Homo sapiens: one gene and its partner. The protein of the gene in region 1 purifies or fractionates together with the protein of each later gene. This does not show direct contact. Each region holds a gene or a part of one and is shown in the gene's direction. Other genes may lie near its edges. The genes, in order: PDXDC1 and PAWR.

Region 1 (3,819 bases):
TGCTGGAATGGCTAAGAAAGAGTTGCTTGAACATAAAGATTTGTGGGTCTTACTTCCCACATATTTTGAGTCAATAGGTTGTGCCCAGGAATCTGTATCTTAAAGAATGACCCAAGTGCCACCAGTCTAGTCCAGGGCACCACTCTTTTTTTACCTGGTTGGCCATTGTCCCCTGTCAACTGACCTCTGACTTTCATACATTCTACACAGCCCATTCCAGACCATTCTCCACCTGGCAGAGAGGGTTATAAGTGGAAGTCACATGGTGTTGAAACCGGAAAGGTTCCCTTGTCCCCCTCGCAGGGCATGTGATGGGGGTGTGGCTCGCTTCTTCAGTGCCCCGCTGCTGCTCAGACCTCTAGGAGAGCATACAGACGGGCAGGCTGTGGGGCTCCGACCCCATGGCAGCATCTGGGGGTGAATGTTTTACAGCTCCTAAGGCTCCAGCGGGCATGTGTTACAGTGTGCTCTTTTAATTTAGCCGTCTGTAGGCAGCTTGTTTTAGCTCACTTAGACCCCCTTCCTTATCACAAGGACAGAGGGATTAATGTATCCCAGGTTCTTGTCTTGGTGTACCGGAAGAATGGGATCACATGTGGGCTTGGAGAATGAGTGCAAGGTTTTATTGAATGAAAGTAGCTCTCCGCTGATGGGGGAGCCAGAAGGGAGACAGATTTCCCTTGGAGTTGGGCCGCTCAGCGGCCCTGGCCAAACTCCGCCTCGTCCCCGTGGTTGATGGCCTGCTGGCTTGCCGGGGCCTGTCGGGGTGCTCTTCTGCCGGCCTGCTCTCCATGACCAGCCGCTTGTGTCTTTTTCCACCAATGTGTTCCTCTGGCCATCCAGCCACTTCTGTCTGCCCACTAGGGTCTCAGGTTTTTATAGGCCCAGGATGGTGGTGTGGTGGGCCAGCGTGGTCTTGGGAAATGCAACATTTGGGGGAAGGCAGGAGTGCTTGTCCTCACCTAGGTCCGTGGGGGTAGAGTCCTAGCCAGGGACCCGCCTTTCTCTCCCCAGCACTTCCCTTCCCCGCTTCTGTGTCATTTAAAGGGACCACGCTCTTCCCTTCCCAGCACTCCCGTATCAGTGTCACTTCCCTGCCCAGAGCCCCTGGGTATCTTACCATTTCGGTCGAACAAAGGCCAGGCTCTCCCATGCCCCATGAGGCCTGCACACTCTGCCCCGAATTCGCTTCTGCCTTCCCCCCTTCCACTCTCCCTCTTGTTCGTTGTGCCTCAGTCAGACCAGTCTTCTCCGCGCTCCAGAACACTCTGCCCTTTCCTACCGCAAGGGCTTAACACTCGGCGTTCCCTCTGTCTTACACACATTTCTCTCTTCTGGTGCCAGCTCCTCCTCACCATTTCGGTCTCCACTAAGTATCCACATCCTCAGCCTTCCCTGCCTATCGTGCCTGAGGGGACTCCATCATTTTCTATCAGAGCCCCCAGCTTCACTTGTGACACTAACAACCACATGGAGTGATTTTCTTTCTTTATGGTCTGTTTCCTCAACTAAAATGTAAGCTCCAAGATGACAGAAACCTTACCTGCCTTCTGTCCCAAGTGTCGGGCTCTGTGCCTGGCACGGGTTGGCACCCACTGTGAGGCCTAGTTAGATGATCGTGGCACTCACAGACCTCGCACGGTGCTTGGTAAACTAGTTAGTAACTTAAAACAATTGCTGTTTCCCCTTGAAATCCCTTGAAAGCAAACCTTTTCAAAAATGAAATTAATAATTCTGTCTTATGTGAATGTATTCAAGTGTTACATAGATCACGAGGAAAAAGAAATGTAGCCCTTCTGTCAGATAATACATGAGAATTCAGTAATACGAGTCAGTGCCCTGGGGCTAATATTGGGATGGGAATGATGTGGGGTTTGGAGGGTGTTTTTTTTGGTCAGCCGTGTTTCTGGGAGTGACTCCCTTTCTGTGTTTTGGTGTCAGATCCGGTGTTTAAAGCCGTCCCAGTGCCCAACATGACACCTTCAGGAGTCGGCCGGGAGAGGCACTCGTGTGACGCGCTGAATCGCTGGGTGAGAATGGCAGTCACCCCCCTTTCCTTTCAGGTCCCCGTCCATCACCATCCGACCTGCTGGTGAGGGTGACGCGTGCTCGTGTATGGGAACTGAGGCCCACAGGAGGAGCCGCCCTGCCAGTGCTGGGCCTGCTCTGGAGTTCTGTTCCCCATTGCGTTACCACCTCACGAGCTGGGTCACCTCTGGCAAGTCCTTCTGGCATTGCTCCCTCACTTTCCTTGCTGCTGTATAAGGCTGTGAGACAACAGGCAAAAGGTGGGCTGCAGGGCAGCTGCGGTGGGTTCTGGTGAGCCTGGGCAGCACAGCCGGGAGCCCCAGGCAGAGTCTGCCGAGCATCTGCAGCTGGCAGTGTGGAGCCAGGCCTGCACTTTGATAGCGTTTTGGGCACTGAATAGCAGCTCTAGGATTTGAGTCTGAAGGGTCTTGTGAACAGTGTGGGATGGCGGCAGCAGCAGTTCTAGCCAATGCTGGACACGCCCAGCCTAGCAGGGTTGGCAGATAAGTCCTGGTACATCCATGCTGGGGCTCAGCACAGCTGTGAGAGACCACAGAGCTGAGTGTCTCAAGCAGAAAGGAACTGGTCATAAACGAAATGAATCAATGCAGGTTACTAAGCAGTGTCAAGTAGCATGTTTTATGACAACAACTACAACTCCCTGCCCGCCACTAGGAGAAAAGACGCTGGGGGCAGACCACATGTCAGCAGTGGGTGTCGCTTAGTAATATATTGTGGGTCATTGTTATTTTCTTCTTTTTGTTTACTTGTATTTCCTAAATTTTTCTACAATGAACTTGTATTAATAAGAAAAAACCATAAAATTTACTGTTTTTAAAAAGCTGCTCTAAGTAATCAGACAGTCAAAAGAGCAGGAATCAGCTCTCCAGGAGGCTCTTTGGTCTGGGGCCGAGGGGATGAGGGTGGGTCCTGAAGACGTCTGAGTCCCTTGTTACAGGAGGGTGTTCATTGTGTCCTCCTCACAGCTGGGAGAACAGCTGAAGCAGCTGGTGCCTGCAAGCGGCCTCACAGTCATGGATCTGGAAGCTGAGGGCACGTGTTTGCGGTTCAGCCCTTTGATGACCGCAGCAGGTAAACCAGGCTTGGTGGACATCCCTTGCTTTTGTTCTGGGGCTGCTGGGTAGATTAGCTTGCCCTTATGATACTCCATTCTCCTAGAGTTATTAGCAGCTCTTTTTGGAGGGGCATTTTCTTTTCTTTTGGGCTAAATTTAGGTAGATTAGCATTCCCATGTAACTTACCAGAATCAGAATGAGAATTCAGAAGTCACCTGAATTGGCCGGGCATGGTGGCTCACACCTGTAATCCCAGCACCTTGGGAGGCCAAGGCAGGCAGATCATCTGAGGTCAGGAGTTCGAGACCAGCCTGGCCAACATAGTGAAATCCCGCCCCTACTAAGAATACAAAAAATTAGCCAGGCATGGTGGTACACACCTGCAGTCCCAGCTACTTGGGAGGCTGAGGCAGGAGAATCACTTGAACCTGGGAGGCCGAGGTTGCAGTGAGCTGAGATTACACCACTGCACTCCAGCCTGGGGGACAGAGGAGACTCCATCTCAAAAAAAAAAAAAAAAAAAAAAAAAGTCATCACATGAATTCCTTTTTTGTTGTTGTTGAGACAGGGTCTTGCTCTGTCACCCAGGCTGGAGTGCAGTGGTGCGATCATGGCTCACTGCAGCCTTGACCTCCTGGGCTCAAGTGATCTTCCCACCTCAGCCCCCGAGGAGTTGGGACCACAGGCATGAGCCACCACACTGGACTAATTTTTG
Region 2 (3,819 bases), on another chromosome or scaffold:
GCAAAAGTATGAAAACTATTGGGAGAACAGGTAATGTCATACTGAAGGAAATGTAAAATGATACAATCCCTATTGAGTGGAATTTGGAAATACCTGCCAAATTGACATATTCATTTACCTTGTGAGCCAGCAATCCTAATACTAAGAATCTATCCAGGAAATCCATTGCATATATACAGAAACTATATATATAAGCCTTTCTAACACATTTTTCTTAGAGCGTGTAAAAAACCCAAATGTTCATCAATAAAGCTCTGATTAAAATATGGTAGGTACATCTATTTAATAAAATTATTATGCAGCTGAAGAAAGGAATGAGGAGAATCCACTTCTCTTAAGTATGGCAGATACAGGAATTCTCTTATTTCTCATGATTTCCGCCAACTTCTTCCTCCAGATGTATTTATCCCAGTTAGAAAAGATTGCTTAAGAATTTCTAGGATGCTTGTTATCAAAAGAACTGCACTGGTTGCTAGCAGAATTTTGGAGAGAAGTTGTGATTCATCAAGTAATCCTATACTAAAAGCTGCCTGGAACGTTAGATACATACTGTATCCACAGGGATACTATGTGTGATGAATAGGTTCCCAGTTCAGTGGATAGCAGTGTTGCCATGGGAAAGAGCATTCAGAATTTTAACTTCAGGTATCACAGTTCACCTTCCAGTTCATCTCCAAGATGATTTGTCTCATCTTGGTAACTCATTCATTGTTTTATGAAACATTTACCGAGTGTTTTGTTTCTTCCTTTCTTTTTTCTTTTAATATACTGGTAAGGGAGTCTAGTTGAGGGGGCAGGAGGAGGGAAAGTTAGTGTTGTGGGGCTGGGTCTCAGAAAATGAAAACAAAGACAAATAAAATAGCATCCCAGTGCTCTGGGAGTGCGTGGCTACCTGCCTCAACTTTTGCTTTCTGTTAATATTAATCTATGATAATTTAAGAATTCCAACTTTAAGCTAATGATGTTGGAGCCTAGGTGAGGGATTTTTGAGTCCATATGCTGGAGAATAAGTGATGATTGCTTTCACACAGTAGAAGACTAGAGATGAGACCATTCTTTATTCTTTTCCAGATCTCATACTTTTGCTTCTCCTACTGTTCATTAAATGATTGACCTCTCCTCCCCCTTTTAAAGCAACTCCTTGATTTAAAATGCCTTTTATGCTATTTTATTCTTTCTGTTCTAGGACCTCTATCAGGTATTTTTGTTATTGTAGTTTTATACATTTTAACATTAACTAGAGTGTTTGGTCATACCTCTTTTTTAAAAAAGTAATTTTTTTGATATCTTATGTATTTTTTCTTCCAGATGATGCACCACTACTTTCCAAATAAATTTCTTCATGATTTTGATTGGAATTTTAATTTATGTGTTAAGAGACTGTTGACACCTTCACAATACTAGATTTTTCTTAAGAGCAGGTTTTAATTTGTATTCTTCAGTAAAGTCTTATAGCTTTTTTCATGCACGTACTGTTTTTTAGTTTTTTAATGGTTGTTACTAAAAATTTTGTAACTGGCTATTGATGTTACTTTGGGAAATTTTTTGCTTATTTACTGAAAAAAATCTTAACTCATAATTCTAAAATGTTTTTGTTTTTTACAAAATCATTTCCTCTGATGGTAATTTTGCCTCCTTTCTAATGTTAAAATCGCCTATTCTTCTTACCTAGTTCTATCAACTAGCACTTTCAGAATGATGTTAACAATTATGTTAATAGTGGACATCAATGTCTTGAGTCTGATTTTACTTTAAATTTTGCTGGTATGTTGTCATTAAACAAGATATTGTCTAGTGATTTGAGAAAGTTTTTGAAAGTCCTGAGAGAGATTTTTTTTTTCTAATAAGGACTAATTTCTTAACACTTTGGTGTCCCATACCAGATTTCTTTCACTGACTCTGTTTCCACCTATGATATATCATTTTTCATAGGATACAATTGCCTATGTCATTTAACTAGTCACTTAACTAGTCTTTTCACTTTTGGTCTTGTTCCTGTTCTCTGCATTGCTATTTCCAGGTTCTTCCCAAAAAGAATTTTGATCATTCCTTATCCCAAGGAACTGTATAGCATTGTAACATCATTCCAAGCTATGGAGTGAGAAGTCTAAACTTCTTGGGTTATCTATTATTTATGTTCCCTCTATGCCTTTCGAGTCCTCACTTTTGTCAAAAACTGTAATGGCTTTGAGATCATACCCCACTTGCTGGCTAACACGTTAGCTTGTGTATGCTGGCAAAAGATACTAGTCTCCTGGGTTAGTTAGAGTCAAGAACAGTTTAGACTCAGCAATAACAGTAGCTACAGTATCATAATTTTCTTGTGCTGTTTCCCCAAGCCCCACTCTTGGCAGGTTGATATGACAAGGGCCAGGTGACACCAAATCTCAACCTGCATGCTCCTTTCATTTGCCCTTTCCATTTCTGTCCTCAGACTTCTCTGTATCATCCTAATGTTGTAAGACTCCATCTCAGCTAGAAACCATCATTCTGAGCAAACTATCACAAGGACAGAAAACCAATCACTGCATATTCTCACTCGTAGGTGGGAATTGAACAATGAGAACACTTGGACACAGGGTGAGGAACATCACACTCTGGGACCTGTCGTGGGGTTGGGGGAGAGGGGAGGGATAGCGTTAGGAGATACACCTAATGTAAATGACGAGTTAACGGGTGCAGCACACCAACATGGCACATGTATACATGTGTAACAAACCTGCACATTGTGCACATGTACCCTACAACTTAAAGTATAATAATAATAAAAAATAATAAAAAACACTCCATCTCAGACAGATGCTTTCTTCCATGTCCTCCATTGTAGACCTTGTCTTTATCAAGCTTGGTACCCCTTTCAGTATGTTCCTCCTATCTCCAAATATTCCAGTGCACCTTCTTGGTTTGCACAATGGCTTCAGTGTTTTCTTCTCTCTGCACAACTTTTTTTTTTTGTCCAATTCCTATTGTCTTCACTGCCATACTGTTATACTTTGCTGTGATCAGTTCCTTAGTGTCTCTACAAAGAGGTGTGTGGTTTTTTTTGTTTTTGTTTTTGTTTGTTTATTTGTTTTTGTCTGGAGGGGGTGTGAGTTCTCATGCAGAAACCTTTAGGGCAGTGTATTGGTTAGGAATGTATTCAGTTGCAAGGAACGGATAACCCAGCCCATGATGTGTATAATGGATAGAGATTTGTTTCTATTTTGTTTTTCTTATGTAGAAAGTGTAGAGTTAGATAATTTCTAGTGTTGCTTCTGTTTTTTAGCAGCCTTCTCTTGTAAGCTTTTCCAATATGCTGTTACATGTGTAATTCTCTTTTTTTATATATCTGCAATTCCAAATTGTAGCCATTCTTTAAATTACAAGATTTTTTATAGTCTTTTCTAACTCTCCAGGTAAAAATACTCTTCCTTTATATGCTCATAGAATATAAAGCTAGAAACTGGGCCTTTATCACTAAGTTATCTATCTATCTATATATATGTATTATCTTTCCTACTAGATTATAAATTCCATTTCTTTAATGCATCCTTTGTTACCTTCTGCAGAATGCCTTGTTTAAGGTAGACGTAGTTTACTTATTGAATGAATGATAAAGAATGAATAAACCTTTCCTTTAAGAAAACCCTGTCACTGATGTTTGGAGTTTAGGGAAAAGATTTGTTGGCAGTGGTGTGGATATGGAAGTACAAGTTTTAAGCAGATAATTTATAGGAATTAAATGTACATATTGCTGAAAGAAAAATACTTTTATTATGCAAACTAATTTCTGAATGCACAAATATTTCTTTAATACTATCAATATATTTTCACATATTA

What was found.
Region 2: the proteins of PDXDC1 (region 1) and PAWR fractionate together in Homo sapiens (co-fractionation; one large-scale study listed by BioGRID). This does not show direct contact.

Annotation. Positions count from the first base shown.
Region 1 is NC_000016.10:15,026,937-15,030,755, forward strand, and holds part of PDXDC1 (pyridoxal-dependent decarboxylase domain-containing protein 1), read left to right. Parts: intron 1-1,941; coding exon 1,942-2,030; coding exon of another isoform or gene 2,031-2,096; exon of another isoform or gene 2,097-2,869; intron 2,870-3,014; coding exon 3,015-3,120; intron 3,121-3,819.
Region 2 is NC_000012.12:79,621,262-79,625,080, reverse strand, and holds part of PAWR (PRKC apoptosis WT1 regulator protein), read left to right. Parts: intron 1-3,819. UniProt on the Homo sapiens protein: Pro-apoptotic protein capable of selectively inducing apoptosis in cancer cells, sensitizing the cells to diverse apoptotic stimuli and causing regression of tumors in animal models.